Linked DNA regions of Homo sapiens: regions 2, 3, 4 and 5 are each linked to region 1. The links come from fine-mapping of genetic effects on gene expression. A gene starts in region 1. Each other region holds a variant in brackets. All regions are shown on one strand. Distances are between the middles of the regions.

Region 1 (6,049 bases):
AACACAAAAACTAGCTGGGCATGGTGACACACACCTGTAGGGTCAGCTACTCGGGAGGCTGAGGTGGGAGAATGGCTTGAGCCTGTGAGGCAGAGGTTGCAGCGAGCCAAGTTGGCGCCACTGCCCTTCAGCCTAAGTGACAGAGCCAGACCGTCTCAAAACAAAAAAAAAAAAAAGAGAGAGAGAAAGATTCTTCCTCAGACACACACTGGGCTTCCTCTCTCCCTTCACCCAGATCTCTGCCCATGGCACCTTCTCAGAGAGGCCTTCCTTGTCCACCCTTACCTTGCTTTATTCTCCACAACATTTACTTCCTGTGACATTAGATTTTAATTTATTAATTCATTGTCTCCCCTACAACTCCCTGATGACAAGGGTTTCTTATCTATTTACCCCAGCACGTACAGGAGTGCCTGGCATGTAGTAGGTGCTCAATAAATGGCTGTTGAGGGAAAGGTTGAGAAGGGCAATGGCATAGGTGACATCTCTTGGGTGGGTGTGGGGTCATGAATGAGCTGCCCAAAACTGGAGGCAGTAGGGGTCTGTTCAAGCAGGAATGAGGTCCAGAAAGGGCAGGAAGCCAGATGCATCCAACTGGTGCTGGGTGCTGAGTAAGGCGTGACCATACAGCCATAAACAAACTACTGCCCCCACCTTCAAGGAAAGTAGGGCAGACCAGGAGCTAGGTGATAACAGCATAGAGTGACAAATGCCACAGTGGGACAGACTGTGGAGCCCTGAGGAGGGTCAGGGGGGGTTCCTGGAAGGGCAGCATCTAGGCTGAGGTGAGAGAGAAAACTTTGGGAGGCCAAGGCAGGCAGATAACTTGAGGTCAGGAGTTTGAGACCAGCCTGGCCAACATGGCAAAACCCTGTCTCCACTAAAAAAAAAATACAGGCCGGGCGCGGTGGCTCACGCTTGTAATCCCAGCACTTTGGGAGGCCAAGGCGGGCGGATCACCCGAGGTCAGGAGTTTGAGACCAGCCTGACCAACATGGAGAAACCCCGACTCTACTAAAAATGCAAAATTAGCCGGGCATGGTGGCGCATGCCTGTAATCCCAGCTACTTGGGAGGGTGAGGTAGGAGAATTGCTTGAACCTGGGAGGCGGAGGTTGCGGTGAGCTGAGATCACGCCACTGCACTCCAGCCTGGGCAACAAGAGCAAAACTCCATCTCAAAAAAAAAAAAAAAAAAAAAAAAAATTAGCCAGGTGTGGTGGCATGTGCCTGTTGTCCCAGCTGCTCGAGAGGCTGAGGCATGAGAATCGCTTGAACCCAGAAGGCAGAGGCTGCAGTGAGCCGAGATCGCACCACTGCACTCCAGCCTGGGTGACAGAATAAGATTCTGTCTCAAAAAAAAAAAAAAAAAAAGTAGGGCAGCCAGCAAAAGAAGAGGAAGGGAGAGGGTGTTCTAGCAGGGGAAACAGCACAACTGCAGGCCTGGAGGGGGACAGAGAGGACAACTGCAACCAGCTCCAGTCATGGACTGGACAGAGGGTGATGAAATCCAGCCTGGTTTGAGCTTCCAACCCCACCGCAACAGAAAAGGGACAAGAAACCCCTTCCCAATGGTGTTCCACCAATGTTCAGAGCGGAGGGAAGATGATTCTGCGAGGCAGGCACTTTGTAAAGCACCCACTCTGCGCTGGGCACTGGGGACATGGGACAAGGCAAACTTAGCGTGTTCTTGGGGAGAAAAATCTGTGCCAAAATGTGACAAGTATTCCGGAAAGGGAAGCTCAGGGTGCAATGGCAGCACACAAAAGTCTGAGGAAAGCTGTCCCTGGGGCCTTTTTCCCTCTCTGAGGTCATCACAGAAGAAAGGGGGGGCCCTCCTGCTGGCGGGAGCTGGCAGTGAAGTCTCATCCACCCCCTTGCTGGAGTGATTATGGCAGCAGCCTGAGAAGGAGGGGACCGGGCGAATGAGCGGAGCCTTGGGACTCTCAGAAACGGACAGGCAGTGCCACCAAGGCGGCAGATAAAAGGGTGCCCAGGGAGGCTGATGGAGTCGAACTCTCAGGTGGGCAGGGACCGAGCACCCGCCAGAGCGCCCTAAGGAGCCTCCTAGGGCTGGTGACAGAGGGACAGGTGGTGGGAGCCTGTGGAACGCCGGGGAGTCGGGGCAGGTTCTGAGCAGGAACTGGCGGTGGCTGTGGAACACACGTGTGAGCTACAAGCCTGGCCGGGCCGCCCCCGCTGCGCGCCCCCCGGAGGACGTGGCCGCGGGCCAGGCCGCCTGCTGACACAGTGTTCCCTAGCTCCGAGCATCACGCACACACGCGCACGGCCCCACCGCGGCCCGGGGGAAAGCACGTGCGGAGGGCGGCATCCATCGCGAAAGACAGCGGAGGGGCATGCACCCCACCCCCACGCGCGCACACGCACGGACAGAAAACGAAAAGTGACCCAGAGACCCCGGCTGTTCCAAGGTCCATGAAGTTCGTAGGGCCAAGACCCAGGGAAAGCCCCGCGCGGCAGGGGAGGCCAGGCGCTGCCCGGGCAGAGCCACGGGCACGCTGGGGGGTGAGCCAGCCAGTCCGGAGACCAGATGGCACGTCCTGGGCTCCCCTCTCCAGAGGTCCGCGCTCCAGGGCACATTAGGAGTCACCCAACGCCTGGACCTCCGATCTCCCAGGTCCCAGTCTGGACAGCCCCAGCCAGGGGGGCACGATGAGCACCCGCCTAGAGGCACAAGTTGCTGACTCTTTGTGCCGTCCCCGAGCTGTGCCCGCGCTGATAGCACCCCAGAGGAAGCCCCGACACGCGGCTGCCTGCGGCTCCTGAGCGCCCCTCCGCGCCTCTCGACTGCACGCCGGTAGCGCTCTCCCGGGCGGGGGAGCGGGGAGGAGCTCCGGGCGCTTACCTCTCGGCCGCGAAGTGCCCGGGCGGCTTCCTCCCGGTGTAGCCTCGGGCTGGTGCCCCCGGCAGCAGGAGCGCGACACAGGCGGCCCGAAGGAGCAGTCCGGCCCACATGACCGGCGGCGGCGGGTCCCCCGGGCTGGGCTCGGCTCCTGCGCCGCGCGCGGGAGAGGGGGCTGCCGGCCCTCGCCCCTCCTCCTGGCGCCGTGGGGAGCGAACCAGCGATCCCCGAAATGGCACGCAGAGCTGAGCAGGGGGGCTTGGGACGCCGAGAGGAGGGGCCGAGGGCCGCGAGGGGACGCGGCGGACGATTGTGGGGAGGGTCTCTGGCACCTCGAAGCGAAACACACAAAGGCAACGCCGCCCGCCTGCTGATGCCTCTCCGAGAGGCGCGGAGCCCGGGGCGGGGGCAAAGATCAGGGACCCCTGGGGGCGGGGTTTCGCCCTCGGCCCACACCCCCTGCCCCGGTTTGGGAGTCGGCTTCCTGCGAAGCGCTGACTGAAGGCGTCAGACCGAGGCCCCGGGAGGAAACAGACTTCGGGAACAAGGCTAGCACCAGAGGCTGCGCGCCCCGGGCATGGCCCCTGTCGGTGGGACCCGAGACGCCTTGTTGTGACGAGGTGGGAACCGTGGAAATTCGAACCCACGACGCCAGGTCGCTGTGCCGCTGAGCAGTTCTAGGCCTGCCCCCAGCCTGCCAGAAGGTCTGCACCCTAACGCCGGAGTGCGTTGATCTGTGGGTCCAACCGCTCCCTGGCCTGGGGCCCTAGCCACTTTTGAAGCCCCGGGCTCCTCTGGGCACCCAGGGGGCAGATGGCCGGCCTCCCGACTGCTGGTGGCAAGACCAGGAAGCAGCTGGCGCCGTTGGCAGTGGAGAGGCAGCAGCAGATCTGGAAGGCTCCTCTTTGCCCCTTCTGCAGCTGCCCCAGGCCGTGGTCAGAGACTGGGGGGCTGCCTAGGGATTTAGGCAAAGAAGGGGTGCGGAAATCAAAATCATCCCGCTGGGAGAAAGCTGAAAGGATAACTGATTTTACCTTCTGCTCCATGCAGTAATCTTTCCCTTAGCCACCCACAATTAGTCAAGATTTTGCTTAAATACTTCCAGGGGTAAGAAACTCACTATCTGTTAAGAAGCGGCCCAATCCAGTTTTGAACCACATTTGTTTTAAAGTGTCTTCACTTCCCAGTTGAACAATCCCTGTTCCTTTGGCCTTCCTGCTACCTCTGCCTTTACTGAGGTGCTTAACATTGGTGGCCACAAATGGACATGGCGTACCAGCGGTGGCCTGGACTCGTGCCTCCTTCCTGCAGACACCATACTTTTACTAATGCACCCTAATATTACGTTTTTGGCAACCCCATGATGTTAATTATGACACATTGAGTTTGCAGTAAAGAAAAACCACAGGTGGCCGGGCGCGGTGGCTCACACCTGTAATCCCAGCACTTTGGGAGGCTGAGGTGGGCGGATCACCTGAGGTCAGGAGTTCCAGAACCAGCCTAGCCAATATGGTGACGCCCCATCTCTACTAAAAATACAAAAATTAGCTGGGCATGGTGGCGGGCGCCTGTATTCCCAGCTACTCAGGTTGAGGCAGGAGAATCACTTGAACCCAGGAGGCAGAGGTTGCAGTGAGCCAAGATTGCACCATTGCACTCCAGCCTGGGCGACAGAGCAAGGCTCCATCTCAAAAAAAAAAAAGAACGAAAAAAAGCAGGCATTTTTTGTTGTGCTTTTATGTTATTTAAACACAAGCTGCCAAGTGGTCTCCCTACCTGAAGCTGTGTGGCCCCATTTTTTTTTTTTTTTTTTTAGATGGAGTCTTTCTCTGTCGCCCAGGCTGGAATGCAGTGGCACGATTTCGGCTCACTGCAACCTCCATCTCCCGGGTTCAAGCAATTCCCCTTCCTCAGCCTCCCGAGTAGCTGGGACTACAGGCGCACATCACCATGCCCAGGTAATTTTTGTATTTTTAGTAGGGACGGGGTTTCACCATGTTGACCAGGCTGGTCTTGAACTCCTGACCTCAAATGATCCACCCACGTCAGCCTCCCAAAGTGCTGGGATTACAGGCGTGAGCCACCGCACCCGGCTTGTGGCTACATTTTTGCAGACATTCACCTTGAGGCCGTATCTCACCTTGTTTGTTTTGGCCCATTTTCTTGTCAACATATTCTCAACAAGTAGGAGCCAAAATATTCTGTAACATAAGATGAATGCAATTTCCGTCATATCCATTCTGAGTCCCAAGGACCCTCGGAATCCTAAGGCATCTTTCTCTCTTGCCCCAAACATCTGAAGGTTACACTTTCCCCCTCCACTGCCCCTAAACCACCAATGTCAAATAGGTGCTCTTTTTTCCTGGCCCTAGGGGAGCTACCCAAATTTTCAACAGGCATACACAGAACAAGTGTCCACATGGCTTCCATATTTCATGCCATCTTCTCACACTCCAGCACACCTCAGCTACCTCTGTTCTTAGCTACATTATGGAGCCCCACCTGCTCCACCTCACCCTGTAAAACTCACTCCCTGGCAGAGTTTGCTCCATATTGGCCAATGAGCAGCTGGAATAGCTGAGATGCAACTTTGTGCTTGAAGAAAACCCACATCTACCCTAAGGAATTTAGGATACTTAGTACACAGTAAATTCCTGTTAGTGAATCTCCAAACAACGTCCAAACTGCCCCTGGCATTTCTTTCATTTCCCCATAAAGTTTCTGTGACCTTATGGCATTCACCTTGCTCCTATCAACATTTTCCCCTTTAGTTTGGTTTTTGTTTTTCTTGTCTTTTTGTTTGACCCTGAGGTTTCTCAGTTTGGACACAGAGTCTCTAACTTACTATTGTTCAAGACTAGTTCGGGCATATCCCTTGATTGCAGTTCCTGTGTTTCTTCCCACTTCTGTGGCTTGTGGTTTCTCAGTAACAAAAGGGACCCTCCACCGAGGGTGGAGGATCCAAGTTGTTGTTGGCTGCAGAATGACAGCCTCTGGCTTGTGATCCCTTCAAATGGTCATGTGATGAGTCAGTGTTTCTATTATTCTCCCAAAGGTCCCTTCGTGCAGAGGCCTGGAGTGATGCTAGTTCATCAGCGCCTACATGGAATGGAGCTGTTCCAGTTGGCTACAGCCACGCTCCAAAGACAACCTTTCACCCCTAGAGAGGTGATTAATGGTGTTTAAGA
Region 2 (6,049 bases), 36 kb before region 1:
GCTGAGCAAGGCTCCAACTTGAGATTCATTGGCTGCAGACCCCGCTCATGACCATGACCCTTTGTATCTTACTGGACAAAACGGCCTCTAAGTCCTTTGCCTCTCTAAACTGTTTGGTTTCCATGCTCCTATCTCCCACATTTATTATTCCTGCCACCAGCCGCAGGTTAGAGGCCAGGACTACACTGTCGTCTGGACTGGATACCAGGTTGCCTTTGCAGCCAGGAAACACTTCAGCAGACCCTTCGCCCTGGGACACAGAGTGAGTAGCAGGTCAGAGAAGGGCTCAGAAGAGGGCGGCCTCGGCAAAGCGATGGGCCATGCCCGGGGGTGCTTTCACTCCGCAGCCTCCATGGGTTTCAGTGGTAGCAAGTGTGGGGCTGCAGGCCCGTAATCCCAGTACTCAGGGAGGCTGAAGTGGGAGGATCGCTTGAGCCTAGGAGTTCAAGACCAGTCTGGGCAACACAGCGAGACCCTATTTCTACAAAATTTTTTTAAAAGTTAGACAGGCGTGGTGGCATGTGCCTCTAATCCCACCCACCCGGGAAGCTGGGGTGGGAGGAAGGCTTGAGCCCATGAGGTTGAGGCTGCAATGAGCCGTGATCATGCCACTACACTCCAGCCTGGATGACAGGGCAACATCCTGTCTCAAAAAAAAAAAAATGGTAGCAAGTGGTGACTTGGTGACAGAGCAGCTTCTGCTTTCCAGCCCCACATCACTTCCCTTATCACAAATCCGCATCCCCCCATTCATGACGGCACTGTCCTCTTTCCGTCTCTCATGCACACTGTGCTACACTGCCCAGATCCCCCCACTAGGACTGAAGGATCAGTCTCCCAGCTGCTGGGAAGGTGGTTGATAGCAGCTCTCTGGTCAATATGAGGCAGAAAGCCCTGCCCCGTAGCTCCAGCTCAGGACAGCTCCGAAGGGCCAGCCTAACCCCAGAGCTCCCAGAGGGGGCTGGCTGAGGCTTCGAGAAGGCCCAGCAGCCCCAACTCTCCCTCCCTGCTCCTTCCCCGCTGCCCACAGGTGTTCCTGCTGAAAACACGTCTTAAGAAACTGCTGGCCCGGCCCGGCGCGGTGGCTCAGGCCTGTCATCCCAGCACTCTGGGAGCCCAAGGTGGGCAGATCACCTGAGGTCAGGAGTTCGAGACCAGCCTAGCCAACATGGTGAAACCCCAACTCTACTAAAAATACAAAAAATTAGTCAGGTGTGGTGGCGGGCACCTGTAATCCCAGATACTCAGGAGGCTGAGGCAGGAGAGCCGCTTGAACCCAGGAGGCAGAGGTTGCAGTGAGCCAAGACCTTGCCATTGCACTCTAGCCTGGGCAACAAGAGCGAAACTCCATCTCAAAAAAGAAACTGCTGGTCTGTCATTTCGTCTCAGAGGTTCCTTCCCAGAAGCAAGTCCTCTCCATCATCTTTTCCCTTCTCACTGTGGAAGCCCCCCAGTGTCTGTATGGTATTCCATGGTGTACATACTATGCAGCCATAAAAAAGAATGAGATAATGTCCTTTGCAGGAACATGAATGGAGCTGGAGGCCATCATCCTTAGCAAAGTTACGCAGGAAGAGAAAACCAAATACCGCATGTTCTCATTTGTAAGTGGGAGCTAAATGATGAGAACACATGGACACATAGACACGAAAAGCACACACTGGGGTCTATGGAAGGGTGGAGGGAGGGTAGAGGGAGAGACTTAGGAAAAATAACTAATGGGTACTAAGCTTAATCCCTGGGTGATGAAATAATATAATCTGTATGACAAACCCCTGTGACACGAGTTTAACTATATAATAAACCTGCACATGTACCCCTGAACTTAAAATAAAAGTGAAAAAAAGAAAAAAGAAAACAGAAAAGAAAATCATGATCTTGGGGAAAAAAATAAAAAGAAGTCTCCCAATATAAAAGGCCGCCAAGTGCTTACAGGAGACCCTTCCCCAGCCCAGTCACAATTTGGTGCCAGCTTTTCTCCCCAGCAGTGGGGTAAAGGTGGATGCTCACTTACCACCTGTGGGCTTGGGGTCACGTTTCCCACCTTCCCACAGGTAAGCGGTGAATGAGCAGTGCAGCATGGGGAAACCGAGACAACCTTTAATCAGGAAACCTCAGAGAGACGCATGACACCTGGCGGTACAGTCCCAGTGAGTGGAATCCCAGCCGGACGCAACTCTTCCTCCAGGAGAACTTGGCAGTCCCAACCCTTCTCAAAAGATGAGCCAGCCACGCGGTCCAGGGAGGATGCTGACAGTGGAAACGACTTCCTCCATTCTTACAGCACATTCCAAACACTTCTTGGGAACAAGGTTACATCCAGCCTTGGGGGTCTTCCATCCTCACCAGGGCCCCTGCAGGAGGGAGCCCAGGCATCCCCACCAGGTTCATCCTTGGAGCTGCCCTGCACACACCCTGGGCCACTGGCAGAGGTCCTCTCTCCAGAGTCTCCCGGACACAGTGACCTCCTTACATGGTGGACTCTTCCCCCCGAGAAGCCCCCACTGGGGGCTGCTGGGGGCCAGGGTGGGTGGTGGCTGCAAGGGCTGTGGAGAGTCTAGAGGTGGTGGGAGAAAGCACGCGAGGCCCGAGGAGGGTGATGGGGGTCTTCGAGGGGCTGGGGTCCATCATGGAAAGTGCTGAAGCTTCCGTCAGGAGGGTGCCAGGCAGAGGAGGCCACCTGGACACTATCTGGGCCCCAGAGGCTGAGAACGAGCGCTCTGGAGTCACAGGAGGTGGCTGAGGAGCCCCTGGGGAAGCTAGAGGTAGAGTGGGGGCTCCTGGAGGGGTCGAAGGCCCTGGTGAGAGTCGAGGGGAGGCCCCAGGCTCCCCTGGGAAAGTGGCTGTCAGCCCCAAAGCGAGTGAGTGTGGACCATGAGCTCCTGCCGGGCTTGTAGGTAAAGTCTGTGTTTTCATCAAGTTCGTTCTTAAAAGGAGCTGGAGGAGATGAAGCACCGGCCTCGAGGGTGATGCTGTCGGGGGCCCAGGACAGGAGCTACAGTTGACAGGGGCCTCAGTGTCTCCATGCAGGCTCCGACCAGCTTTGCTGAATGCCACATTTCCGTGAGGGGAGAGCCCCTGCTTTTCTTCCAGAGGAGACAGGGAATCTAGAGAGACGAGGGTGAAACGAGATGCACAATGGCTCTCTCCAGTGGCCAAGGTGGCTCTGGGACAAGGTATACCAGGGACACCCAAGCTCTGTCCTCAGAGGGGCCTCAGCACACCTGGTGAGGACCAGCCAGCTCCTGCCTCCAGGAAGGGAAGACTGAAGGAGCCATGAACGGAGGGAGGCAGGCAGTTAGCTGTGTGACCTCACGCAAGGCATGCAACTCTCCTGGGCCTCTGTTTCCTCATCTGTAAAATGGGCACAGCAGTAAGGACTGAGTGTGAATGAAAGGGTGCACGGAGAGTCTCAGCCTAAACCTCAATGTGAACTATAGACATTGGATGTCAATGACATGTCAGTGTCAGTGTAGGATCACCGATTATAACAAACATGCCACGCTGGTATGGGGTGCTAATAGGGGGCAACGCTGTATCATGTGGAGTCTGAGGCATATGGGAACTCTCTGTACTTTCCACTCAATTTTGCCATGATCATCAAACTGCTCTAAAAAATAGTTTCTTTGAAGAATTTTTTAAAAAGTCTCAGCCTAGGGCCTGGCATATCATAAAGGCTCAGTACACAAGGAGAAAATAAACACAGATGCTCCTTGACTTACGATGGGGTCA[C/T]GTCCCAATAAACCTGTAAATCAAAAATGCATTTCTGACCAAGCGCAGTGGCTCACGCCTGTAATCCCAACACTTTGAGAAGCCGAGGCGGCGGATCACCTGAGGTCAGGAGTTCAAAACCAGCCTGGTCAACATGGTGAAACCCCATCTCTACTAAAAATACAAAACTTAACCGGACGTGGTGGCGCGTGCCTGTAGTCCCAGCTACTCGGGAGGCTGAGGCGCGAGAATCACTTGAACCCAGGTGGCAGAGGTTGCAGTGAGCTGAGATCGTGCCACTGCACTCCAGCCTGGGAGACAGAGCAGGACTCCGTTTCACCAAAATTTAAAAAAAGGCTTTTTTTTGGGGTGGGGGGGACAGGTTCTCACTCACTTGTCCAGGCTGGAGTGCAGTGGTGCAAACATGGCTCACTGTACCCTCAACCTCCTGGGCTCAAGCGATCCTCCCATCTCGGCTGTCCTACTTGCTGGGGCCACAGTCACATGCTACCACACCTGGCATTCTGTTCTGTTCTGTTCTGTTCTGTTCTATTTTATTTTTGTAGAGACAGGATCCTACTTTGTTACCCAGGCTGGTCTCAAACTCCTGAGCTCAAGTGATCCTCCTGCCTTAGCCTCCCAAAGTGCCGGGGTTATAAGTGTGATCCACGGTGCCCAGCAAAAATGCATTTAATACAGCTCACTTCCTGAACACCACAGCTTACCCTGGCTGACCTTACACGTGTTCAGAACCCTTATACTGGCCCACAGTTGGGCAAAATCATCTAAGTAAATCCCTATTTTTTAATAAAGTGCTGAATATCCATGTGTCACATATTGATAACCCAGGAAAAGATCAAAATTCAAAATACAAAATACAGCAAAATTTTGATGGTTTCACATCATTGTAAAGTCAAAAAATCATTAAGATAAACCACCAGAAAGTCAGGAATCATCTGTGAAAGAAGGAAGAAGCTCAGCAAAAAGAAAATGAAGAGTGAAGAAGCAAAAAAAGAAAAAGTATCGGCCCAGGCGCAGTGGCTCATGCCCATAATCCCAGCATTTTGGGAGGCCATGGTGGACAGATCACTTGAGGTCAGGAGCTTGAGACCATCCTGGCCAACATGGTGAAACTCCATCTCTACTAAAAATACAAAAATTAGCAAGGTATGGTGGTGCCTGTAGTCCAGCCACTTGGTAGGCTGAGGCAGGAGAGTTGCTGGAAACCGGGAGGTGGAGGTTGCAGTGAGCCAAGATCATGCCACTGCACTCCAGCCTGGACAACAGAGAGAGACTCCATCTCAAAAAAAAAAAAGAAGAAAGAGTATCGAAGGTATGATCAAGGAAAAATCAGACGTTGTCAAGCACATAAAAAACTGGAATGATTATATTTTAAAAATCAACTATTCATATTAATAGATGGTTGCGTAACTCTAAAAATATGCTTAAAATGACTGAATCATACACTTTAAATGTGTGAATTGTATGACATATGAACTTTATCTTTAGAAAGCTGTTATACTTTTAAAAAAATCATCAAAAGAGGCTGGGCTCAGTGGCTCATGCCTGTAATCTCAACAGTTTGGGAGGCCAAGGCGGGACGATTGCTTGAGTCCAGGAGTTGGGACCAGCCTGGGCAACATAGCAAGACCTTGTCTCTAAAAAAAAAAAAGTAAAAAAATTAACCAAGTGTTTATCACTTCATGGGCTTGGAAATAAAACAAAAATAGAAACAAAAAATTAGCCAGGCAGGGTGGCATGCACCTGTAGTCCCAGCTACCTGTGAGACTGAAGTAGGAGGATTGCTTGAGCCCAGGGGTCGAGGCTGCAGTGAGCTGTGATCGCACCACTGCACTCCAGCCTGGGCAACAGAGTGAGACCCTGTCTCAAAAAAAAAAAAAAATCATCAAAAGAAAGCAATTCATATTCTACTTCAATAAAAAGTTGTTTTTCCTTAAAGGGAGCTCTTGTTAATAAGAGGTAGGTGGTAAACATAGTGTGCTTCAGGAGAAGGAGCTGGGCTCTGGAGGTTACCTCTTGGTTTTTGTTTTTGTTTGAGACAGAGTCTTGCTCTGTTGCCCAGGCTGGAGGGCAGGGCGCAGTCTCAGCTCACTGCAACCTCCATCTCCCAGGTTCAAGCAATTCTCCTGCCTCAGCCTCCCAAATAGCTGAGATTACAGGTGTGCACCAACATGCCCGGCTAATTTTTCTATTTTTAGTAGAGACAGGGTTTCACCATGTTGGACAGGCTGGTCTCAAACTCCTGGCCTCAGGCGATCCACCCACATCAGCCTCCCAAAGTGCTGGGATTACAGGCGTGAGCCACCACGCCAGACCT
Region 3 (6,049 bases), 100 kb before region 1:
TAATCCCAACACTTTGGGAGGCTGAGGTGGGCAGATCACTTGAGGTCAGGAGTTTGAGACCAGCCTGACCAACATGGAGAAACTCTGGCTCTGCTAAAAATACAAAAATTAGGCTGGGTGCGGTGGCTCACACCTATAATCCTAGCACTTTGGGAGGCCGAGGCGGGCAGATCACCTGAGGTCAGGAGTGGCAGACCAGCCTGGACAATATGGTGAAACCCCGTCTCTACTAAAAATACAAAAATTAGCTGCTTGAACCTGGGAGGTGGAGGTTGCAGTGAGCCGAGATCACTCCATTGCACTCCAGCCTGGGCGACAATAGTGAAACTCCATCTCTATAAATGAATAAATAAATAAATAAATAAAAATTAAAAAATTAGCCGGGCGTGGTGGTGTGCACCTGTAATCCTAGCGACTGGGGTCGCTGAGGCATGAGAATTGCTTGAACTGGGGAGGCAGAGGTTGCAGTGAGCCAAGATTGCGCCATTACACTCCAGCCTGGGCAACAGAGCAAGACTCAGTCTCAAAAAATAATAATAATAAAGAAAGAATACATCAAACAAACCCTAGTTGAGGGACATTCTGCAAAACAACTGGCCTATACTCTTCAAAAGTGTCAACGTGATGAATGAAAAAGGCAGAGGGAGGGACTGTTCAAGATCAAAGGACACCTGGGAGACCTGGAACCCAAAAGAATGTGCGATCCTGGATTGAGTTGTGGAACAGAAAATTAAAAATCACAAAAAAGGACAATTTTAGGACAACTGGTGAAATCTGAATATGTGCTGTGTATTAGATAATAGTATCGTATCAATGTAAGACTTACTGCCTGTGGTCATTTTGACATCATCCACGTAAGCAAATGTCCTTAGAAACACACACTAAAGATTTAGGAGCAAAGGATCATGATGTCTGCAATTGACTCAAATCATTCAGCCAAAATAATAATAATATGCATGTATGCATGTGTATGGAGAGAGAGACAAAGAGAATAAATTCAGTAAAATGTCAATACGTGAATCTAAAAGCAATTATAATAATAATAATGAATCTGAGTGAAATATATATGGGAATTTGTGGGAGGTGTTTGTTTGTTTGTTTGTTTGTTTGTTTGTTTTGGAGAGGGAGTTTCGCTCAGTCACCCAGGCTGGAGTGCAGTGGTGCCATCTTGGCTCACTGCCACGTCCACCTCCCAGGTTCAAGCCATTCTCCCACCTCAGCCTCCCTAGTAGCTGGGATCACAAGCATGCACCACCACGCCCGGCTAATTTTTTTGTATTTTTAGTAGAGATGGGGTTTTGCCATGTTGGCCAGGCTGGTCTCTAACTCCTGACCTCAGGTGATCTGCCCTCCTCAGCCTCCCAAATATATGGGAATTTGTTGCACTATTCTGGCACTTTTTCTGTAGATTTAAAATATTTTCTTTTGTTGTTGTTGAAACAGGGTTTCACTCGGGTCGCCCAGGCTGGAGTGCAGTGACACAGTTATGGCTCACTGCAGTCTCAACCTTCTGGGCTCAGGTGATTCTCCACCTCAGCCTTCTGAGTAGCTGGGACTACAGGCGTGTGCCACCATGCCTGGCTAATTTTTTCTATTTTTAGTAGAAACAGAGTTTCACCATGTTGGCCAGGCTGGTCTCGAACTCCTGGACTGAAGCAATCCACCCACCTTGGCCTCCCAAAGTGCTGGGATTACAGGATGAGCCTCCGTGCCCGGCTCTCCTTGCCATTTTTACATACTGATATCTCTGGGCTCTGTGCCAGACTGGGGTGGGTGCCAGAGGAAAAGGATAAGACCCCGCCCCTCCCCTTGAGCACAGGGTCGACTGCAGGTGGTCACGCACCATCTGCTGGGTGCTGGGGGGCAAGGCGGCAGCAGGACATGGGAGGAAGGTACGGGGGAGCAGGGTCTGAAGGAGAGCATTAGCAAGGGCCCTCCCCCTCCTCCTCTCTCCTGCCTTCCACCGGGATCTGCCTTGCTCCGAGGCGGAGAGACTGACCCCCAGGCTCCAGTACCCTCCACCTTCAGCCCCAGCTCGAGCTGGGTCCTGGCAGTGCTAGTCCCTCCCTGCGCTCCTTTTGATTTTCCACTGCTGCTGGCTCCCGGTGCCTCCTCATCGCTTTTGGGGTCCTTTACCCTTGCCCACCCCCTCACTAAATCTCTTCAAACCTCTAGGTGGGCCACCTGTTTCCACAAGGATTCTGACACTCTAGGTAATGACAGAGAAACGCTTTCAAAGGGAACAGCTTGTGCCAAGGCTCAGAGGCAGGGGAGGATGTAGCCCAGTGGGAGAATTCAGACCGCCCAGGGCAGGAGGGCAGGAAGGCAAGCTGTTCCAGCCCAGGTCACAGCTCTCAGCATTGAAACTGGGAACTGTGACACCTCCCACCTGAGCCCCACATCCCCCACCCCCGGAGGACGCATTGGCCGGGGCCTGCCTACAGCTTTACCTGA[G/C]CCCATCCCGGAGCGTGGACTGGGACACAGGAGCAGGCTCCAGGCTCCACCGTGGATTACACAGGCACACCCCTTGCTGAGGTCGAAAACAGGAGGCTTGTGTTCCTCCTCCACAGTGGCGTGGTTTTGGAGCCTCCAGCCAGGCCCAGAAGCCTCCTCTACCTTTCCTTTTTTTTTTTTTTTTCTTTCTTTCTTTTTTTTTTTTTTTTTAGATAAAGTCTCGCTCTGTTGCCCAGGCTGGAGTGCAATGCTGCAATCTCAGCTCACTGCAACCTCTGCCTTCCGAGTTCAAGCGATTCTCCTGCCTCAGCCCTCTGAGTAGCTGGGATTACAGGCACGCGCCACCATGCCTGGATAATTTTTGTATTTTTAGTAGAGACGGGGTTTTACCATGTTGGTCAGGCTGGTCTTGAACTCCTGACCTCATGATCCGCCCGCCTCGGCCTCCCAAAGTGCTGGGATCACACGCATGAGCCACCATGCCCAGCCCTCCTCTCTACCTTTTCTAGCAATGAAAACTTCATACCTGACAGTCAGCCTGGATGCTTAATGCTCAACCATTCACTCAACATCTACACTGCCCCAGGTCCAGATCTTTGTAAAAATGAGATGCTCCCCTAGGAAGGAGGAACACACTCCTGGACTGATTTCAGCCTCCAGATACTAAGACAGTTTAAATGCCTCCTCCTCCACGATGGCCTCCCATATGTCCCTTGGAAGTAAGCTCCTTTTCTTGAATGACTAGCACTCTGTCCCTTTTATACCCTTCTTAGTGTCTGCCCTAGTTAATAATTTCTACTGTTTTCTGCTTTTTATTACAGTGACTGAGGTATGGGTCTTACTTCTCTCACTCAGATGTAAACCCACTGAGGACAAAACTCATGGCTGATTCATCTCTATCAAGCCTACTGCCTGGCATGTGGAATGTATGAATGAGTGAATGAACGAGAAGATGAACAAGGCAAAGCGCTCATAAGCATGGCCAGTTTGGCCAGGGAGTAGGCTGTAAGAAGACGTCAGAGCCTTCTGCTTGAATCTGCTGCCTTGCCGCCCACCCCAGGCTAAGGCACGAAGACCCTCAAAGCTGCTGCTGCAGGTCCTTTGGAGGAGCAGGCAGCTGGGCTCCCTGGCTCTCCCATCTGGAGCAGGAGGCCCAGGACAGGTGCTTTAAATACCCTCTGGCCACACCCCCAGCCTACTGCCCCTGGCACCAATGGTGGCAGAGTCACAGGTCAGAAACCAGGATTCAGGTCACCCCTTAGAAGGAACAGGGCGTAGATGGGGACAGATTGGATCAGAAAAGGCTGAGGAGGCCAGGTCCAGAGCTGTGCACACCTGGGAGTAACGTGGTATTTGAGATACCGAGGACAAAAGAGCTGCGGCTGTCGGGGGCAGGACGCACTATCAGGGGACCTTAACCTCTGTCCCCAAGAGGGGTTCACACCCCAGGCCACCAGTTTCAGTGGGTTTACACTGGGGCTCTGGGCAGGCGCAGCTCAAGGCAGGTGCTCTGAGGGAGAGCAGGGCTGTGAGGGGCTGGGGAGGCTGGCCCAGAATCTCCCCATGCCCGCCTGGAGACTGCAGGCCAACTTCCTGGTCATGCCCCAGTTCCCAGGAATTTTCCAGCTCCTGCTTAATAGCTCCATCCTCCCTCCATCTGCCCCCAGCCCACTCCCAGTTTCCAAACATTTTCTTTTTTGCTTCCAGTTAACCCTTGCTCTGCCCAGTACCGAATTTCTGTCACTGCCTCCTCCAAGACCTTCTCTTGTATTTTGCCCAAAGCAGGTGTCAGAACCCTTTCTGGGGGCCGAGCAGCTTGGTGTTGGGAGGCTGTGGTTGAGATTCCCGGCTCTCTTACTCCCTTCCCAGGGCTTGGGCAAATTCTTGCCCCCAGTGCCTCCTCTCTGCTTCCTGACTCTCCCTTGAGAGCTTGGACCATAGACCCCAGCACCCTTCCTGCTCAAGGACACACTCCACTCTGAGTATACACCCAACAGAAACACATACATATGTTCTCTAAAAGATGTGTATTAGAAGCCGGGCACAGTGGCTCACGCCTGTAATCCCAGGACCTTGGGAGGCCAAGGCAGGTGGATCACTTGAGCCCAGGAGTTTGAGACCAGCCTGGGCAACACAGGGAGACCCCGTCTACACAAAAATAAAAAAAATTAGCCAGGCATGGTGGCACACACCTGTGGTACCAGCTACTTGAGAGGCTGAGGTGGGAGGATTGCTTGAGTCTGGGAGGTCAAGGCTGTGGTGAGCCATAATTGTGCTTCTACACTCTAGCCTGGGTGACAGAGCAAGACCCTGTCTCAAAAAAAAAAAAAAAAAAAGAATGTGTATTAGAATGACTGTAACTAGCAATAGTAAGTTCTATAGTTTGAAATATCTGGAGGGAGGATATTGAATGCTCCCAAAACAAAGGAATGATAAGGCCAGGCGAGGTGGCTCACACTTGTAATCCCAGCACTTTGGGAGGCCGAGGCGGGTGGATCACCTAGGAACAGTTCAGGGGTTCGAGACCAGCCTGGCAACATGGTGAAACCCCGTCTCACTAAAAATGCAAAAATTAGCCAGGCTTGGTGGCAGGTGCCTGTAATCCCAGCTACTCGGGAGGCTGAGTCAGGAGAATCTTTTGAACCCGGGAGGTGGAGTTTGCAGTGAGCCAAGATGGCACCATTTCACTTCAGTCTGGGCAACAGAGCGAGATTCTGCCTCCAAAAAAAACAAAGGAATGATAAATGTTCAAGATGATAAATATGCTAATTACTCTGATCTGATCACTAAACATTATGTGTACGGAAACATCCCTATGTACCCATAAATATGTACAATTATTACATGTCAATTAAAAAGAAAAGAGCTAGGCACAGTAGCTCATGGTGTAAATCCAGCACTTGGGAAGGCCAAGGCGGAAGGACTGCTTGAGGCCAAGGGTTCAGGACCAGCCTGAGCAACATACCAAGACTTCATTTCTATTGTTTTTAATAAATAAATAAAAGGAGAAGAAAGAAGATGTGTATATAAGAGAACGTTCATAGAGCACTGTTCCTAAGAACTCCACACTGGAAGCTTCCCAAATGCCTATGAACTGAAAAAGAGAAAATAACAGGTATATTGATGCAGAGGAATAATACACAGCAATGAAAATGACTGAGTAACAACTCCACACACCGCCATTCGTGGATGCCTCTCCTAAACATGATTTTGAGCAAAGAAGCACAATGCAAACTAAAGTGCTTGTTATGTGGTACTGCTTAGCAAAAGTACAAAAACAGGGAAATGAATCTTTGCTGTTTGGAAATTAGAGTAGTGATACGCTTGGTTTGGCCCTAGGATAGTGACTGGGAAGAGCCTGGGGTGGGGTCCCGGGGTACCTGACATGCTCTTTTGCTGGGTCTGGGTTGTGGTTACATGCGTGTGCTTGGTTTGTGAAAATTCATCAAGCTGTTTCTTACGATATGCACCTTTCTGTGTGCATATCATATCTTGAGAAAAGTTTTAAAATGATAATGTAGATTTATAAAAATCACTTGTAAAATACAAGACCATGATTTTTCTTTTAAAAGCGGGTTTGGGTTGCAAATAAAGT
Region 4 (6,049 bases), 160 kb after region 1:
TGGTGGCACGTGCCTGTAATCCCAGCTACTAAGGAGGCTGAGGCAGGAGAAGCACTAGAACCCGAGAGGTGGAGGTTGCAGTGAGCCGAGATCGCGCCATTGCACTCCAGCCTGGGCAACGAGTGAAACTGCGTCTCAAAAAAAAAAAAAAAAGAGAAAGCTAATTGGAAAAACACTGTCATGGTCTTCACTAAATGCTGGGGATAGAGAAGAATGCATCTTGTCTGTCCTTGAGGAGCTCACTGTTCTTGGTGCTTTATTTCATTGATTGCCAAGCAGAAGTTGTCTGCACTAGCATAGCACAATGTGCTACACCCAGTGCCAGACACAGAAGACGCGGAGATCAATGAGATGGAGCTCGTGCCGCAGAGGTCCTCTGAAGAAGGGATAAGTGAATGGAAGGCACGAAAGGATCTGTCTATGGGCCTCAGGCACTGACCCTGTGAGAGCAGGCAGCAGGACATCTAGCCTTGTATGCCAGGTCTATCCTCACAGCAGGGATGAGGACACCAGGCCACTGAGCTCTGAGACACCTACTTTTAATATAGAAATAACTTCTTTTGTTCTGAATTCACCCTCAGCAATCAGTTACGATTGTCTGGTAGATTTCCTTTTTATAGAGACAGGGTCTCACTCTGCCACCCAGGCTGGGGTGCAGTGGTGTGATTGACTCTTGGGCTCGAGGCATTCTCCTGTCTCAGCCTCCTGAGAAGCTGGGACTACAGGCGCATGCCACCACACCCAGCTAATTTTTTAAAAAAAGTTTATTTTGGGCCAGGTGCAGTGGCTCACGCCTGTAATCCCAGCACTTTGGGAGGCCGGGGTGGGCAGATCAAGAGGTCAGTAGTTCGAACCAGCCTGGACAACATGGTGAAACCCCCGTCTTTACTAAAGATACAAAAAATTAGCCGGGCGTGGTGGCACGTGCCTGTAATCCCAGCTACTCAGGAGGCTGAGGCAGGAGAATCCCTTGAACCCGGGAGGCGGGGGTTGTAGTGAGCCGAGATCATACCATTGCACTCCAGCCTGGGCGAGAGACTCCGTCTCAAAAAAAAAAAAAAAAGTTTTGTAGAGACAGGGTCTTGCTGTGTTGCCCAGACTGGTCTGGAACTCCTGGCTTCAAGCGATCCTCTCACCTCAGCCTCCCAAAGCACTGGGATTACAGGCATGAGCCACTGAGCCAGGTCTGTCTGGTAGATTCTTACCCTGTGTCCATGCTGTTTGCCATGTAGCTTTTAGGGCTTTCTGCCCAGACGCTGGGGTCAACTCATTGCTTTGGTCAATGAGATATCAGTCATTGTGAAGCAAGCACAGCCTTAGAAAGCACTTCCCCTTTAGCTCTTGTACCCCTGCCACCACGTGAGAACCTGCCCATGGTAGACTTCTGGAGGATGAGATGTGTGTCCCAGTCACCCCAGTTGCCTCAGCCAAAGTCAGCTGACAGTTAAGTGAGCCCAGTCAAGACCAGAAGAATTACCCGGCCAAGCCCAGTCCAAATTGTGAACCCGCAGACTTTTAAGCTAAGGAAATGCTTATTATTTTAAGTTATCAAGTTTTGGGGTCATTTGTTATGCAGCATTATTGTAGCAATTGATAACAGATACAGATGGCAACAGGGCTTGTCCATGTAGATTTGCTTTATAGGGAGAAAAATCACTGACTGGCCAGCATGAATGAGCATCCTGTCCCTTGGATGGGTCAATCTCTCATTTGTTTTTTTGTTTTGTTTTGTTTTGTTTTTTGAGATGGAGTCTGCTCTGTTTATTGCCCAGGCTAGAGTGCAATGGTGTGATCTCGGCTCACTGCAACCTCTGCCTCATGGATTCAAGTGATTCTCCGGCCTCAGCCTCCTGAGTAGCTGGGATTACAGGCATGCACCTCCACGCCCGGCTAATTTTTGTATTTTTAATAGAGATGGGGTGTCACCATGTTGGCCAGGCTGGTCTCAAACTCCTGACTTTACCACCCGCTTCGGCCTCTCAAAGTGCTGGGATTACAGGCGTGGGCCACCGTGCCCGGCCCTTGAATTTTTAAAAAGGCAGCTGCTTAGTATAGATCAGATTCTTGTGAACTTAGTATAGCAATCGCCTATGAACACACATGATTCCTACTGATCTATTTGAACAGCAGCAATAACATTTACTGAGCACTTATTCCAGAGCAGACATTAGGCTAACACCATACATGGCTTGTCCTGCTGAATTCCATAGCAGTCTGATGAAGTTGCTTGTATTGTTGTCTTCATTTTGCCAAAGAGGAAACAGGCCCAGAGGGACTGAGTTACTCACCTATGGTGACAGTGGCTTAGCACTTAGCAAACAAACTGATATAGGACCCTTGGAAAGTTGGAGGTCTGTGTTATGCATTAGCAAAATGTTTGATAAAACTACAGCCCACTGTAGCTTGGGAGGGTATCCCATGTGCTTTCCAGGCTGACAGCCAAAGGCAACGCAGTTGGAAAGCAGAAAACTTGTCATCTCTCTTGGCTACTGTAGGCTGTATTTGTTGAGGATTTATAAGGAAGGGATGAGCTCAGGCGAGGATTACCTGGTGTTTGAGCAGTAATGAAAGGAAATAAAGTACAGAAACCCACGGTCTTTCAGGGTTGGAAAATCTGCTACACCCCAAATAGGAAGAGATGAGATATAAGACTCATCTGGGCAAGAAAAGCCTGGTAAAACTTTTCTCTTGGATGCAGTTACTCAGGACAAGCATCAGGTTAAAGGTGGGCCTCCTATTTATTGTTCCAAATAGCCTCAAGCTAGCCATTGAGTAGAAAGGGAGAGACATGGAGGATGAACAGGCAAAACATATTAGACCTAAGAACTGGATCTAGGAAAAGACTTGGCACGTGCGTGAGCGTGGCCACTGGCCCACAAAGCTGACCAGGGCAAGTAGGTTAGACACTAACTATGTAAAGAATTGTATTGCCAAGGAACCGGGAGCCAGCCCTTTGGACAGTTCCAGCTATAAAACAACCTTTGGGCCTCCAATCATCCATGAGCAGGAGGGACGGTGCTCAGCCCCCAGAGAGGGCAGGCTCTGCCACTCTCATTTCAGCTGTAGCCAGAGAGGATGATGGAAAAGGAGGAATCTCCCAGAGAGAAGAGCCAGGGCCAATGTGGAGAGTGGATAAGGAGAGTGTCTCCC[G/A]GCAAGCAGCACCGGGGTGTAATGAACGGGTACCCCTGAGTCCTGTCCCTGCTCCACCACTGTGTGGCACAGGGTTAGGGGAGCAACTTGCTTGTCTTTTTGGTCATGGCTTACTGGACTGAGAAGAGCCACATTGGATGAGAAGTGACTACTGCACATCACCAGAGACCCTGGGCTTTGAGCCAGATATCGGGACTAGATAGGACTTTGGGTCCCTTGGGAAGAGGGTGTGTTCCCTGAGTGAAAAGAAAAACTTGGTTTGGCAAACAGAACGGTGGATCGTGGCAGAGATGATGGTATCCACCCGCCACACCATTTGATCTCCCTGAGCATATAGAAAGACCATTTCCTATAGCATCCAGGAAATGCCCTGAGCATGTGGGAAGCAGACTCTCCGGGCCAGGTGCGGTGGCTAATATCTGTAATCCCAGCACTTTGGGAGGCCGAGGCGGACAGATCACTTGAGGTCAGGAGTTCTAGACTAGCCCGGCCAACATGGTGAAACCCCGTCTCTACCAAAAATGTAAAAAATTAGCCACATGTGGTGGTGGACGCCTGTAATCCCAGCTACTCGGGAGGCTGAGGCAGGAGAATTGCTTGAACCCGGGAGGCAGAGGTTGCAGTGAGCTGAGATCGTGCCACTGCACTCCAGCCTGGGCAACAGAGCGAGACTCCGTTTCAAAAAAAAAAAGAAGGAGCTGCCCTGATAACAAGGCTGGTGCTATGCGACTGAGTCCGGCAGAGAGAGTGTGAGTGAAAGCAATGAAAGCCACTTCCAGGCCTGGCCCTTGGAAACATCTTGAGTGGTTGCAGCCCACTGTTACCCTGCTGCAGACATCCCAGAGACCACACGTCCAGACAATGTGGCACACGAAGGAGGAGGGCCACCTAATCTCTTGCAAACTGCTTGTGAATGAGAAGCCTTTACTGTGTTAAGTCAAGGGGGATTTCATGCTTTATTCATTTCCTCATCATTGTCTATTCGATCCTGATTAGCACCTAGCACCTCTCAGTGTAGCAGGCTCATAGGATATCGCTGGCACATCTCAGTATATCAGACCTCATCTTGGCCAGGCACTCAGTTTCTGTGCTCCAGCCTCTAAGATGGTCAGTCTTTCAACCTCACCCTTTGCAGAATTCCTCCTGCTGCAGGGCCTTTGCACATGCTGTATGTCTTTGGCCAATCTGCTCTTTCATGTTCCACAATGACTGGGTCAAACCTCCCACCCATTACTCAAACCTGTGACTTTTCCTTCTCTCCATTCTCAGACGACCTCACTGACTTCCATCAGAGGACATTGAAGCCCTCAGAGAGGAGCTCCCTTGCCTTCCCACATCTGCACACCCATTCTTCTGTGACACAGGAACTTTGGCTTCTGCCCTTACCTTGCTCTGCACTGTCAGTAGCAGCCTGCCTCCTGTATGCTCATCTGTCCCACTCGGCTCAATCCTACTCCCAAGCCCTGGCTTCTTTGTCAAGTCCAGTGACTCTCCTTTTTCTTTCTTTCTTTTTTTTTTTTTTTTTTTTTTTTGAGACAGAGTCTCACTGTGTTGCCCAGGTTGGAGTGCAGTGGTGCAATCTTGGCTCACTGCAACCTCCGCCTCCTGGGTTCAAGCGATTTTCCTGCCCCAGCCTCCTGAGTAGCTGGGACTACAGGCGTGTGCCACCACGCCCAGCTAATTTTTGTATTTTTAGTAGAGACGGGGTTTCACCATGTTGGCCAGGCTGGTCTCAAACTCCTGACCTCAAGTGATCCACCTGCCTTGGCCTTCTAAAGTGCTGGGATTACAGGCGTGAGCCACCGCGCTCGGCTGACTCTTCTTTTCCTTTCCTCCCCTTTGTAATCCAGCTTCTTCAAGGGGTTGACTATACTTGTCTCTACTTTCTTAAAATCTCACTTATTCTTTATATTAATCTATCCATGTTTCCACCTCGTTATGCTATGAAAGCATCTCTCACTAAAGTCACCTGTGACTTCCATGTTGCTAATCCAACAGGCTTTATTGAAGTTTTATCTTTGCCTCTAACCAATTATGGACACCTCCCCTTCCCTTGATTTTCATGATTCTGTTTCCTTCTGCCTCTCCAGCCATGCTTCTGCCTCTGTGAGGCACGCCGTCCTCTTCCCAGTCATTCTGTTTGTAGTTCTTCACAGTGCTCTTCTAGGAGCCTCCTCTCTCCTCTGGATACTCTCTCTAGTGATCTCACCCATACCGGGGTACCCATCACCACCTATGTGTGGACAGTTCTCACATCTTCCTCTAAGCTCCAGCTTGCATATCTAACTGCCAACTTGACTCCTCCTTTGAAGGAGGCTGAAAAACCCTTCAAACTCAGCCAGGCTACCCTCCCTCCCTGTTCTACTCACCAAAAACTCCCTCATCTTGAGAGCCTCAGTGAATGGCATCACCAGTCATCCAGTTGCTCAAGCTGGGAATTGTCCTAAGCTGCTCCTTCTCCCTCCATGGCCATCATCCAAGGCCTGTTGACTTAGCTTCAAAATAGTTCTTGAATCCATCACTTCTTCCCATCTCTAGCACCATCACTGTGGTGAAAGCTACTCTCATCTCTCTGATGGACAATGGGTATGGCCATCTGATCTGCCTTCATCATCTGGCATTCCCTCAAATCTGTTCTTTGCCTGCAGCTCCCAAATGAGTGTGCAGTTAACCCTTGAACAACACAGGAGTTGGGGCGCCAACCCCTGCATAGTCGAAAATCTGCATATACCTTTTGATTCTCCAAAAACTTTACTAATAGCCTACTATTGACCAGAAGCCTTACTGAGAACATAGTCGATTAACATGTATTTTATGTTATATGTATTATATACTGTATTCTTAGAGTTAGCTAGAGAAAAGAAATACTATTAAGAAAATCAGGCCAGGCACAGCATCT
Region 5 (6,049 bases), 25 kb before region 1:
GAGGCTGAGGTGGGCAGATCACCTGAGGTCAGGAGTTCAGGAACGGCCTGGCCAACATGGCGAAATCCCGTCTCTACCAAAAATACAAAAATTAGCCAGGCGTGGTGGTGCATGCCTGTGGTCCCAGCTACTTGGGAGGCTGACACAGGAGAATCGCTTGAACTCGGGAAGCGGAGGTTGCAGTGAGCCAAGATCACACCACTGCACTCCAACCTGGGAGCCTGGGTGACAGAACAAGGCTCCATCTCAAAAACAAACAAAAAAAATTTCTCTGGCCCTGTCTAAAGGGTCACCCTGGGCAGGACTGGAGGGAGCTGACTTCCACCATGAACCAGAAGCATCCCTTGTCTTGGAGGTCTCTGGATTTTGCCTCTGGGATTCAGGAGCCGATGTCAGTTGTGGGGGAGTTTCCAGGGGCGGGAGTCAGATCTGGGTGGTCCATACCAGGCAGATGCAGCTCAGACATGGGTCCAGCACAGACGGGAAGGTCTCGTTGTTATAGAAGATTCTGCCTGTGTAGGTGCAGCCTGCCAGAGAGAGCATGCGCTGAGCACCAGCTGGGAGTGGCCAGGCACCAGGCTTCCCGCCAGGGCCAAGGTCACAGGCTTATCTGGATGGCAAAGGGGAGGCCATGTGCCTCCCCAGGCAGTCACCCTGGGAGTTAGGGAAGGGACAAAACGCCTGTTTGGATTGTCTGAATCGGGTATTGACTTTTTTCCCACTGGATTCAGCAAAAGGATCAAGTGTCTTGGCCTCAGTGTCCTCACCCTGAAGAGTGGGGAGATTCATCCTCTACCTCCTCACCAGGGGGGATCAGGTGGAAGAACTGGGAAATACGAGGTGTGTGTGAGGCCCCACAGCATCTTCCCAACCTCCTCTCTGCCCTCCAAACTCACTCAAACCACCAACCCCGCCTGTCCAGAACATTCCCCAACACTACTCCCCTCTCTGATTCCTGACAGCCCCAGAAGCCTGATGTGAGTGATGCCACCTTGGATGATACTATCATATACTGCTAAGTGTAAAAGCAGGTGATGAGACAGTAGGGGAAGCTTTAAAAAAATAAAATAAAATAAATAAATATATGTATGTTTATATATATATTATATATATAATGTACATCTACTAAATGTGTGTGAGCATCACAAAAAGAGACTAGAAGGACATAAACACAAATTTAACAGTGCTAATAGGTCCTTGCTAATATTCTTTATTTTTGCTTTCTGTACTTTTTTTCTAAATTTTCTATAATGGAGCTGGGTGCATTGGCTCATGCCTGTAATCCCAGCACTTTGGGAGGCCAAGGCAGGCAGATCACCTGAGGTTAGGAGATCGAGACCAGCCTGGCCAACATGGTGAAACCCCATCTCTACTAAAAATACAAAAATTAGCCAGGCATGGTGGTGGGCACCTGTGATCCCAGCTACTCAGAAGGCTGAGGCAGGAGAATCACTTGAACCCGGGAGGTGGAGGTTGCAGTGAGCTGAGATCACGCCACTGCACTCCGGCCTGGGTAAGAGAGCAAGGCTCTGTCTCAAAAAAATAAGATAAATTTTCTATAATAAAACATTACTTCTGAAATCATGGAAAAGGTAAAAATGACTATTAAAAGGCAAAAATGACTGTTAAAACTTCTCTCCTCCTGCTGTTCTCCAATTGTCTCACAGGTGCAGCTCCTGTACCACCCACCTGCACCGTAAGCCCTGCGTGTCTTCAGATCTGCCTCGAGCACTCAGAGGGGGCCTGACTTGGGTAAACTGTTCTACCTCAGTTTCCTTATCTGTGCAATGGGGTTGTCCCTTGGGGTTGTTAGGACGACATGAGATGAAGGCTGTATAGGGCTTAAGGAGCCCGATGCCTGAGATGCCCTGCCCTGGGGGCTTGGGGCAGAGGCAGGGGATTACCTGCTGAACAGTCTGGGCAGCACTGTCCAGGGATCCGGATCGGGTGAGGGCAGGAGTCCACACAGTCTGTCCTCTTGCAGCTCACCGAGCCATCTGCCTGGAGGAAGGAGGAACTTCACCAAGACCCCACCGGTGACACCGGCCCCTGCCTCCCCGCCCTGCAAAAGAAACAGCAACGCTGCAAACTGGCCAAGGCTTGCCCTGAAAGGCAACATGACGCGGCTGGAAGATGGCAGGTCTCCCCTAAAGAGGATCGGCTACTTGAGAAAGGCCATGTGAGCCTTCCAGGAAGTCTATGCATCTTTAAGGAGAAGGAAGGTCAGGGTTGGGATTCTGGTCTCCTCCGCTTCCTGTAGCAGCCAAAGCCTGCACCGTCACCACCATCCAAATCCTTTCTCAGCTTTTCCCTGGAACCCTGGCTCACCAGGAACCTACAGAGTACCATAAAACCCTATTTTTAGAAAAAACAATGCCACCAGAAGTGTCTATTTCAGAGAGCCAAAGTGCCATACAAGGTTTCTTTCTTTTTTTTTTTTTCTTTTTAAGACGGAGTCTCACTCTATTGCCAGGCTGGAGTGCAATGGCGCAATCTTGGCTCACTGCAAACTCCACCTCCCGGGCTTAAATGGTTCTCCTGCCTCAGCCTCCCGAGTAGCTGGGATTACAAGCATGCGCCACCACGCCAGGCTAATTTTTGTATATTTAGTAGAGATGGGGTTTCACCATGTTGGTCAGGCTCGTCTTGAACTCCTGACCTCAGATGATCCACCTGCCTTGGCCTCCCAAAGTGCTGGGATTACAGGTGTGAGCCACCGCAACCGGCCTCTTTTTCTTTAAAAGAAAAAAACACAAAAACAATCTGACAGTTTGAACCTTTTGTATCACTCTCTTGGTGACTGATTATGGGTGCCCGAAATCAGTCATAAAGGAGAAGACAGCACAGGAAGGACTTTCCTCCCAACTCTAATTTCAATGAGACGTGTTCAGCTTACAGCATTTTTTTTTTTTTTTTTTGAGACGGAGTCTCACTCTTTTGCCCAGACTGGAGTGCAGTGGCTCTATCTTGACTCACTGCAAGCTCCGCCTCCCGGGTTCACGCCATTCTCCTGCCTCAGCCTCCCGAGTAGCTGGGATTACAGGTGCCCGCCACCACGCCCAGCTAATTTTTTTTGTATTTTTAGTAGAGACAGGGTTTCACCATGTTAGCCAGGATGGTCTCAATCTCCTGACCTCATGATCCACCTGCCTCGGCCTCCCAAAGCGTTGGGATTACAGGCGTGAGCCACCGCGCCCGGCCCAGCTTACAGCTTTTTAACAAACGGCTCATCGAAGGCACTAGAAGGCTGGGCTTCTCCCACATGAAAGTGCACACAAATCACCTGGAGGTTAAAATGCAGTTTGTGAGAGCAGAGGTGTGGGCAGGGCCTCGAAAGGCTGCACGTCTAACCAGGGCTCCCAA[C/T]GCAGGTGCAAGGGACCTCATTTTGAGAAATAAACCTCTAAAAGACTCGAAGCTCTTAAAGTAGAAAGGAAAGCCAGCATGTATTAGATTGGTGCAAAAGTAATTGCGGTTTCTGCCATTGTAAGTAATGGTAAAAAACTGCAATTACTAGTACTTCAATAATGAGCTAAAACAATTGTATTTCTGGGTGGATAGCTGTGTTTGCATTGTTGTTGATCTGACTCAAACTCATGCACCTCCTTACTCATTTCTGAAATGGTGAGGTCACATGTTTTGCAGTCATGAAGAAAACATTGCAATTTCACAGAAACAGCCTGAACAACTGGGTCTCAGGCTACCCCACTCCCTCAGTTATCCATGCCTGGGGAAAACCTTCTATGAAGATTCCTAATTCTTACTCCTCATGCCAGCAGCTCCCTGCACATGCACACTGTGTTACACACACTTTTTTTTTTTTTTTTTTTTGAAACAGGATCTTTCTCTTCTGCCCAGGCTGGAATGCAGTGATGTGATCACGGCTCACTGCAGCCTCGACCTCCTGGGTCAGCCTCAGGAGCTGAGGAAGCGATCCTCCCACCTTAGCCTCCCAAGTAGCTGGGACCACAGGGGCATGTCACTACATGCAGCTAATTTTTGTATTTTTTTGTAGAGACAGGGTCTCACCATGTTGCCCAGGCTGGTCTCAAATTCCTGGGCTCAAGCAATCTTCCCACCTCAGCTATGTTGGGATTATAGGCGTGAGCCACCACTCTTGGCCATACACACTTTTTTTTTCTTTTTTTTTGAGACTCCTTCTTGCTTTGTCGCCAGGCTGGGGTGCAGTGGCGTGATCTCAGCTCACTGCAACCTCCTCCTCCCGGGTTCAAACGATTCTCCTGCCTCAGCCTCCCAAGTAGCTGGGACCACAGGCACCTACCACCACGCTCGGCTAATATTTTGTATTTTTAGTAGAGACAGGGTTTCACCATGTTAGCCAGGATGGTCTCGATCTCCTGACCTTGTGATCCACCCACCTCGGCCTCCCAAAGTGCTGGGATTACAGGCGTGAGCCACCGCACCTGGCCAACAATACACACTTCTTAAGGCCAACTGCCAAGCACCATCGTCCTCACACATCTACTGAGAGCAGGATAAACTCGGTCCAACCCTTTTTGTGAAAGTGGAACTTGACAGCACCGGAGGGAGACTGCGGCCAGCCTGAGGCCAGCCTCTGGAGGGGCCAGGACGCTTGTCTCCTCTGGGTGAGGCGGGGCAGCCAGGTAAAGCAGCTGAAGGCGAGCAGGTTGTCATTCACCTGGCAGATGCATAACTCACAGGGGTCACCAGGCGACCAGATCTGTCCAATCGGAAACTCAACCCCGTTGTCGTCAAGAGAGCAGCCTGGATGAGGACAATGGCAGAGAAAAGACGGCACAAGACCTAGACTACAACAGCAGCAAGGACAGATGCCTCATGCGCACAAACACACACAGACACCGATATCACTCACACACGGACACACAAACTTACACACACTCATACAAATGCACACTTACACAGATACAATTCACACAGATACACATACACTCATACAAATGCACACTTAAATATACATGTACACACAGATACCATTCATGCACAGAGACATACACATACCGATACAAATGTACATTTGCATACACACACAGATACAACAGACACACATGCTGATACAAATGTACATTTGCATACACACACAGATACAACACAGACACACATGCACACAGACACACACATACTCATACAAATGCACATTTACATACACACACAGATACAACACAGACACACATGCACACAGACACACACATACTCATACAAATGCACATTTACATACACACACAGATACAACTCACACAGACACACACTCATACAAATACACTTACATACACATACATATGCTCAGACACACACACACAGATACTACTCAGAGAGACACAAACTTACACACAGACACACTCATAGAATCATACACTTACATGCACATACACACATACAGACATGCATGCTCACACAGGCACACACAAAAACACAAAAACAGACACATAACATACATACCACAGAGACACACTCATACTACACAAAACATACACATACATGCTCATACACAAAGACACATGTACACAGACTCCCACAGATACCATTAACACACTGACACACACACACAGAAAACTATTCAGAAACACAGAAACACACACACACAGGCACATACTAAGACATACTACACAAAACACAGATACACACTCGTACACAGGCAAAGACACATGTACACAAATTTACACACATTCATACAAATGCACACATACACATACATGCTCACACAGACGCACACTACTCACACACAGACACACAAACTTACTCTCACGCAGACACACTCATACAAACATACACTTACATGCACACACACATATGCAGACACAACAGACACAAAGATGCATGCTCACCCAGGCACACACAAAAACACAGACACATACACACACACCCACAGAGAGACACATAGACATACTACACAAAACACAGACACACACTCATATACATAAATACAAAGACACACATACGCAGGTACCACTAACACACCAACACACAGATAACCACTCACAAACTCAGAGACACACAAACTTACACACACAGGTACACACTCAGACACACTACACAAAAACTCACACTCATA

Alleles and levels. Positions count from the first base shown, and alleles are read on the strand shown. Sizes are in standard deviations (SD) of each study's normalised expression. Not every link is listed here.
In carriers of allele C in region 3, the expression in thyroid of the gene that starts at base 3,253 in region 1 tends to be lower than with G alone (small effect, 0.36 SD a copy in GTEx).

Evidence for each region. PIP is the estimated chance that this variant, and not a neighbour inherited with it, causes the effect. A credible set is the group of variants that fine-mapping cannot tell apart.
Region 2: its variant is the best candidate, but not a certain one, in a credible set for the expression of VWCE in whole blood (TOPMed, PIP 0.52).
Region 3: its variant is the best candidate, but not a certain one, in a credible set for the expression of VWCE in thyroid (GTEx, PIP 0.61).
Region 4: its variant is the best candidate, but not a certain one, in a credible set for the expression of VWCE in whole blood (TOPMed, PIP 0.87).
Region 5: its variant is the best candidate, but not a certain one, in a credible set for the expression of VWCE in whole blood (TOPMed, PIP 0.59).

Annotation. Positions count from the first base shown.
Region 1 is chr11:61,292,064-61,298,112 of GRCh38, forward strand. It overlaps VWCE (von Willebrand factor C and EGF domains), which reads right to left and starts at 3,253. Exons shown (of 20, transcript NM_152718.2): 1 at 2,865-3,253. The coding sequence starts at 2,974. RefSeq lists silencers at 2,073-2,332, 2,773-3,082, 3,263-3,332 and an enhancer at 2,304-3,006.
Region 2 is chr11:61,256,206-61,262,254 of GRCh38, forward strand. It overlaps VWCE (von Willebrand factor C and EGF domains), which reads right to left. Exons shown (of 20, transcript NM_152718.2): 20 at 2,081-3,107. The coding sequence ends at 2,470. Among named protein-coding and RNA genes, the nearest start is that of PGA5, 18 kb to the left of the region's middle. The variant C/T (reference allele first, on the strand shown) is at 3,733.
Region 3 is chr11:61,191,916-61,197,964 of GRCh38, forward strand. LOC124902678 (a long non-coding RNA gene) reads left to right here. Exons shown (of 4, transcript XR_007062691.1): 3 at 3,276-3,616. Among named protein-coding and RNA genes, the nearest start is that of PGA3, 8.6 kb to the right of the region's middle. RefSeq lists enhancers at 1,584-2,085, 2,086-2,585. The variant G/C (reference allele first, on the strand shown) is at 2,455.
Region 4 is chr11:61,451,440-61,457,488 of GRCh38, forward strand. No RefSeq gene overlaps it. Among named protein-coding and RNA genes, the nearest start is that of SDHAF2, 24 kb to the left of the region's middle. The variant G/A (reference allele first, on the strand shown) is at 3,151.
Region 5 is chr11:61,267,018-61,273,066 of GRCh38, forward strand. VWCE (von Willebrand factor C and EGF domains) reads right to left here. Exons shown (of 20, transcript NM_152718.2): 14 at 4,658-4,743; 15 at 1,905-2,001; 16 at 445-527. Among named protein-coding and RNA genes, the nearest start is that of VWCE, 25 kb to the right of the region's middle. RefSeq lists an enhancer at 1-498. The variant C/T (reference allele first, on the strand shown) is at 3,364.